2 linked regions of the Homo sapiens genome follow. The protein of the gene in region 1 interacts with the protein of each later gene in a pairwise test. Each region holds a gene or a part of one and is shown on either strand. Other genes may lie near its edges.

Region 1 (3,753 bases):
TAGCTTTATTTCTTAATATTCTTAATAGTCCTGGTCAATGGAAAACTGTAGCAACCCTACAAAGACAAGACTAAACAAAAACCCAAATCCTACAGGAATGGATATTTGGGCACCTCCTCCAGCCAAGGTGTTGGCAGTGGCAAAGGGGAAATGGAATGGATAATGGAAGAGGGCATATATGATTTCCACTTTAGGATGGGCCGAGCGCGGTGACTCATAACTGTAATCCCAGCACTTTGGGAGGCCAGGTTGGGCGGATGACTTGAGGTCAGGAGTCCGAGACTAGGCTGGCCAACATGGTGAAATCCCATCTCTACTAAAAACTACAAAAAATTAGCTGGGTGTGGTGGCACATGCCTGTAATCCCAGCTACTCAGGAGGCTGAGGCAGGAGAATCACTTGAACCTGGGAGGTAGAGGAGGTTGCAGTGAACCAAGATAGCACCACTGCACTCCAGCCTGGCCGACGCAGTGAGACTCTGTCTGAAAAAAAAGAAACAAAAAATGGATGCTGAGGGGTGGACTGTGCTGGATGTTTCCTGTCTGCCTCTCTCCCTGCCGGTCCACTCTCTGCCTTTCACCAGCCTGCTGTTTGCTGCTGTGTGATTTACATACAACCATCTGGCTTCCTGCTGGGTTAGGCCAATGGAGAGCCCAGCAAGGAGGGAGGGAGGACAGTGGAGTAAGGATATTTATCCTCCTGATTTTCTTGCTGTGAAGTCTCCTTGGGCAGTCTGTGTCCTTGGATGGATGATACATGCTCTTTTCCAGGTGGCCTGGGCCACAGATACCCTCTCCTTCTAGGTTCTGGTAACCTTCCCTTCCCTCCTCACTTGGTTAGGTGTGGTGATGGCTCAGCTCTGGATTCCTGCACTATCCTTGTAGTTTTACTACACTCTGCCTACATCTCTATACTTCCTTTTATAAATAAATCCTTCTCAACATATCCCAGTTTGAGTGTGCCTTCTGATTCTTGTTGGGATCCTGACTGATAATACTTACCTTTATGATCCAGGGACTTTAAAAGATGTTATCTGATTGATTCTTCACCACGATCCTATTATAATCAGCCTTCTTGATTACCCTCTTACTGTATACCTGGTATTGGTCTAGGAGTTTTACATGAATCGACTCAATTAGTCCTCACCGTTGGCTTACATGTTAGGCATCCTATTATTCCCATTTTACAGACGAGGAAACTAAAGCACAGAACATTTACTAGTTTACTCAAAGTCACAAAGTTAGACATTTATAGGGCTTCTCAAAGGGAGTACATACTATTTACCTCAGTTTTACAGTTAGAAAAACTAAGACTTAGAGAAGTAAAGGGACTTATCCAAGATGTAGTCAGCCAGGTGACTAGGGCTAAACCCCAGGTCTGTCTCCCCTCAAAGTGAATGCTCACCTCTAAGGTACTCTGCTGCCTCCAGAATATTTTCGGATGTCAATATGAGTATGAGCTGATGGGGAAATGTAGGTTCTATGAAAATAAAATATCCTTTTGAAATTCAAAATTTATTTATGTTTTTTTTTTGACAGAGTCTCACTCTGTCACCAGGGCTGGAGTGCAGTGGTGCAATCTCAGCTCACTGCAGCCTCCATCTCCCAGGCTCAAGGGATCCTCCCACCTCAGCCTCCTGAGTATTGAAGACTACAGGCATGCACCACCATGCCTGGCTAATTTTTTTAAAAAGTTTTTTGGGGTAGACATGGGGTTCTGCCATGTTGCCCAGGCTGATCTCGAACTCCTGGGCTCAAGCGATCTGCCTGCTTCGGCCTCCCAAGGTGCTGGGATTAGCGGCATGAGCCACCACCCTTGGCTTATTTATGGTCTTTAAAAAGGAAAATCATCTCACTTCAATAAAGATGAAGCTTGACAATGAAAGTCTAGGCATAACCTAGACTTACTAGCTAGTTCTTTCTTCAAATATTCAGTTTATCTTTAAGCTTATTCCATAGTAAGAGCCTATGTTTTATGGAATACTATGCAGCCATAAAAACGAATGAGTTCATGTCCTTTGCAGGGACATGGATGAAGCTGGAAGCCATCATTCTCAGCAAACTAACACAGGAACAGAAAGCCCAACACTGCATATTCTCACTCATAAGTGGGAGTTGAACAATGAGAATATATGGACACAGAGAGGGGAACATCACACACCAGGGCCTGTTGTGGGGTGGAGGGCAAGGGGAGGGAGAGCATTAGGACAAATACCTAATGCATGCGGGGCTTAAAATCTAGATGATGGTTTGATAGGTGCAGCAAACTACCATGGCACATATATATCTATGTAACAAACCTGCTTGTTCTGCACATGTATCCCAGAACTTAAAGTAAAATTAAAAAAAAAAAGAAAGAAAGAAATACCAATACCTAGATTCCTCCCCAGACAGTCTAATTTTTTTGGTCTGGGGTATGCAGGGTATGACCTGTACACCAGAATATTTTTTTTAAAGCTCCTCAGATAATTCTAACATGCAGCTAAGGTTTAGAACAATTTTTAATTACAATAAATACGTAAAAGAATAAAAATCCCACTGAAATGTTGATGGAATTTTTAAAAAGAGCCTATGTTTTAAACATTTCAATTTAAAAAAATATGACAGATCTAATTCAAAATCCCTGCTAACAGATTTCCTAGGAGAGCATCACTTCTGGAATCCTATTCTCTTGTATATTTGTTAGCGAACATTAGCCCTGACAAAGGTAAAAGAGAATACACTGGTCATTTATCACTCACAGACTGAGGAAATGCAAAAACCAGGCCAGAGGAGAAGAGCCTGAGAAGGGAAACCACACTGGCCAAGGTGCCAGAAACTTATTTTTTGCTTTAGTGACAGTTATTTGTCTTCCACTAGTGAAGGAAGGCACGATCGAGACTTTCATACGCTTTATAATAATTCGTCTCACCCTTCCCTTAGAGACTCCCTCAATATCACGTACTCATGGCTTTCTAACAGCTGAGAAATGATCTGCTTTTCAGATAACACCATCCAGTCGGTTTTCTGTTGCTGCTGTTGCTGTTCAGTGCAGAAGCGGTAAGTCTACTTCCGAGGGCAATTTCTTGAAAATTAATTAATTCCGTTTCTTTATTACCTGTGGAGTCACCATGTCTCTTTGCACCCGCTGTTCTCTCTACCTGGGAACCTTCTCCCATTTTCTCCCTGTGGAATGCCTATTTGTTTACAGGTCTAGGTCAAATGTCAGGTCATCTGGGATCCTTTCCTGATCCTTTAGATTTCATTGTTCATTCCATTGCATTCCCACCGTGTGCGGCATTGTTCTCCACTTAATTTTTATTTCATGTATGTTGTTTATAGGTCTGTGCTCCAATACGTATTTTTTCCCTTTAAGGGCAAGAATCCTATCTTAGTTATCTATCTCCCCAAAACTACCGGTGTATCTTATACTTTGGTGGCAGTAAATGACTCTGTAAGAATTAAATCCAAGGCAGCATGTTAACAGAAAAAGCTAACATTTAACAGGAGCTTCCTGTATATCAGATACTATGCTAAAAGATTTATGTTTATTAACTCATACAGTTCTCAAAACCACCTACTTTTTTTTTTTATGATCCCCATTTTACAGATGAGGAAATTGAAGATTAGAGAGGTTACATTGCTTACCCAAGGCCACACTATGAAATGGTGGAGCTGGGATTCAAACTCTTGTTCCTAATCACTATACCATGTCTATTTATAACAAAAAGACACCATCAAATGAGGTAATGCATATAAAATGACAAACACTGAG
Region 2 (3,753 bases), on another chromosome or scaffold:
GGAGCTGGGAGAGGCTGGGTGTTTTCTGTTATTTTGAAAGTTCTCAGTTGAACTGATCAAACACTTAGCAGAAGAAAAACTCATTATTCTCTGCAAATAGCAAATATATTTTGTGATCATACGTGGAAGAATGACTAGAGAAATCAGTGCGATTGGTTGGTGTCTTGAGCTGGTCACCTTGATCTCTCTTTTCTTTCTTTGGGAGAGGCACTTGTCCTGTGAGAGGCCAGGATAGGGAGGGCACCTCCTAGCTCCTGGGGCACTCGCTGTCATCCTGAGTCATGGGTCAGAGCTGCATCAACTGGGGAGAAGACCCAGGGCCATTTCTGACTCTGATAATGTAGCTGCTTTTTTATTCCAAAGTAAGAAATTTGAAGACTGTTTTTGGGGAATGCAGCAGAACAGGCTTTTCTCGTGACTGGGCTTACCTTTTAGTTTCAGGAATTCTTTATCTCACGCTGTGCACTTGTGCCACTGGGCTGGGACGCTGGCATCGCTCTTTGCCATGGAGCATGCTGTGAGACATGAATCCCTTAGTAAACATAGTTGGTATTCCACACTAGTACCCAGCATTTCAGGAAACAAAATACAACCTTTTGAAGGAGGTGTTTCTTCTGTGTGATAGGAGAATAAAAAGGACCGCCATTTTAAATACAGGTGTATGTAATTATACTGGTAGGAATAGTTTTAAAATTGACATATCTATATGACATACCTTCCCTCACTTTGAAGCTAACCTTTTACGTATTTGTTTTTTCCCATTTTCTTAGAATTTCTTCCCAGAACAGATGGTTACTTGGTGCCAGCAGTCAAATGGCAGTCAAACCCAGCTTTTGCAGGTACTGGGCCACAATAGATCTCTGCTGAAATAGACTTTCTGAATAGAAATCCTCTTGGAACTGAATGGCAGCATTGTAAAAAACCTAAAGAGATCGCATCTTTCACCATTTATAACCTTGGCTCTTAAGCCGGAGGGGTGGTTGGGGGGAGGGTTTAGAGTAACCAGAAATTAAAAGTTTCCTTGGAAAATCTGTGTGTAGCTGGGTTCCTTCTAAGCCAAACAGGCACTTACACGATGCCCTTGCTCTGACTTAGAAGAGTCCAGTGATGCCACTGCTGAGTGTGGGCCAGGGGGTGCATGGAGAAACCCCAGTCTCAGGGCTCCCTCCCCAGCTCCTTTCTGAGCAGGGGTCCCAGGTCAGGCCACCGCCTAGCTGCTTGGAAATCTCTGCAGAAGCACAGAGTCTATAGTAAAAGATGATCGGGTTACCACAACAGACTTTTAAAAGTAACTTGCCATATATTACAAATAAAGAAACCTGCTTTAATTGTCCTGATTCATAAAGTCTGTTCTAAGAAAACCTGGTCTCTCCCCACCTCCTCTTCCAGTGGAGGGAGCCACCAGGGCCTCTGTGCCCAGCTCTCACACACACTCCTCCGGGGAAGCTGGGAGTGGGGAATGGGAATGTTACAGCTACACCCTAAAAATGTGCCTGTGTACATGTTAAAAGTGAGAGAATAAACCATTTCCTAAGGCCACCAACAAGATCCAGGTGACATTACATGTAAGAGAAACTACTAAAATGTAGTTCCTACAGAATTCTCCTCATAAGCCCTTTTTCTACGTTGTTATCACCAAATTTGTTTCAGCATCTAAAAGATAAGAGTTTCAGAGCTCTGTTCTGGTGGTGTCTTCAGAAGCCCTTCTGACCATAGCATGTGTCTGTTCTGGCGAGAGGTGTCAGCACTAAGTTACCACCTATACACAGTGAACAGTGAAATAGCAGATTCTGTTTTAATTGCCTTGACTTTGAGAGGATCCATGCGCTTTGTGAAGATGTGCAGTGATCTCTTGAGACTCAAGAAGGACTGACCCAGGTGCACCAGGGCTCTGTCCGACGTGCCTTTCCCACCTGGGGGAAAAGAGCTTTGTCCCCTCCCAGTCTAGTAGCAGGACCTGCCAGCATCACCTCCCCAACTTCGCTCCATGACCTGGCCCTTGGCCTGTCTTCCCTTTGATGAAAAGCGTAGTTTCTTGTTTTGTTTTGTTTTGATAAAGCCTTTATTCTTAAGGCTGCCTGTGGGAAGAGTTAGCTGGAACAGGGGGACATCACCAGGATGTCCTGCACCTGGGTGCATCACTTGCGGACACATGACACCTTTTATGTGACCCTTGACTGGAGGGGTGCCTGGGTAAAAGTGGCCACTACATACTCACTGTCAGTCTCCAGAGTCCCAATCACTTGGTCATGGCACTTGCTCTTGCCCTCAGTCTGATATCAGACTGGATCCTTCAGTGCACTATCTTATAGGGAAATTCATGACTCGTGTTATCACCAGTGTTGGAAAGGTCCATTTGCTTGCATATGTTTAAATACGAATTATGTTCTATGCAACACGAATTGAGATGGGATTTTAAGACTTTGGAAAGGAGAACACTCTCATTTTGATCCAAAAAGGAGTCTTTTAATAATTCAGAAAATGTCAGCTATGCTGATAACATGTCTGCTTTAATTATTTTAGATTAGCATTATGTGATTTTAAAAATTTGTTCTTCAACAGAATTTTCTGAACTCCAGTAGTTGTCCTGAAATTCAAGGGTTTTTGCATGTGAAAGAGCTGGGAAAGAAATCATGGAAAAAGCTGTATGTGTGTTTGCGGAGATCTGGCCTTTATTGCTCCACCAAGGGAACTTCAAAGGTGAGCTTTAAAAGCTACCACCACCAGCCCTAATTCTGCCACAGTCACTCCCCCCAGGTCCTCAGAGTGAACCTGGGCTTCATTTTTAAATGCACCTTAGACTCCTCCAAGCTCAGGACAACTTCTTAATAAGCTAATTGTGCAGCAGCTGAACTTGGAGTCACAGGTTTCCTGGTCTCGCTCAGAAACTAGGTAATAAATAATACAGGCCTAAGAACCCCACCTGCCTAGCCCCACCCCCACTGCGGGTTGGGAGCAGACACCCCTGGCTGCCCCATCACTTCAGAGACTGGCCTAGTTCTCATAAGTTGGGATTTAAGCTAGCTGTAAAGATGTTTGATAGACTATTGCCACCCTAATGCCAGTGTAACTTTATGTATCATAGATATTTCATGAAATAAACTGCAGGCTTGCATGTATCCCCAGTGAGAAGAAGGTGGGAGATGGAAAACAGCTGCAGGCCCTCAAAAGAGAGCTTAGGCCGGAGGCTCCTTTGCTCCCATGTACACTCTTGTCTGCTCTCTTCTTGTGCTGTCCACATATACCCTGTGGCAGGAGCCTTGTCCACCCAATACCTGGCTGAGCACTTACCATCTGAGGGCTGTGGTCTCTTTTGCTCTGGCCAGCAGAGGTGAAAGGGAGCTGGCGGGACCCCAGCACAGGTGTTGAGCATCTGGGAACCGGCTCTGGGAAGGTGTTGGGGCCGGCTCTGGGAAGTCAGCAGCTGCCGACACCTGGGCCAGAGAGAAGGGGCGTCTGCAGAGAGGGGCTTTGAACTGACACAGGGCATGGTAGCTTCCTGACCTCCCAGCTCTGCTGTGTGGCCCGCTCACTGTCCTCGTGTGTGCTGAAGTTGGGAGGGTATTTCGTAGAGCAGGAAACAGAGCTGGGCTGGAGAGTTGAGGAGGAGAAGGGTGGGACAAGCAAGCTACCAGTGGGAAAACCCAAAGTACGGTTGGACTCTGGACTCACAACAAACCAAAGGCAGACAGGCCCTGTGCTCTTAACTCTGACCTTTGGGTTATAGATTTTCTCCTGCTTTTTATCTTGAAT

What was found. Proteins that work in one complex are often made in the same cells at the same time.
Region 2: the proteins of TXK (region 1) and GRB10 interact in binary tests that used the Homo sapiens proteins (3 or more experiments, as listed by UniProt).

Annotation. Positions count from the first base shown.
Region 1 is NC_000004.12:48,113,633-48,117,385, reverse strand, and holds part of TXK (tyrosine-protein kinase TXK), read left to right. Parts: intron 1-2,983; coding exon 2,984-3,038; intron 3,039-3,045; exon of another isoform or gene 3,046-3,644; coding exon of another isoform or gene 3,645-3,724; intron 3,725-3,753. UniProt on the Homo sapiens protein: Non-receptor tyrosine kinase that plays a redundant role with ITK in regulation of the adaptive immune response. Regulates the development, function and differentiation of conventional T-cells and nonconventional NKT-cells.
Region 2 is NC_000007.14:50,615,157-50,618,909, reverse strand, and holds part of GRB10 (growth factor receptor-bound protein 10), read left to right. Parts: intron 1-770; coding exon 771-839; intron 840-2,562; coding exon 2,563-2,700; intron 2,701-3,753.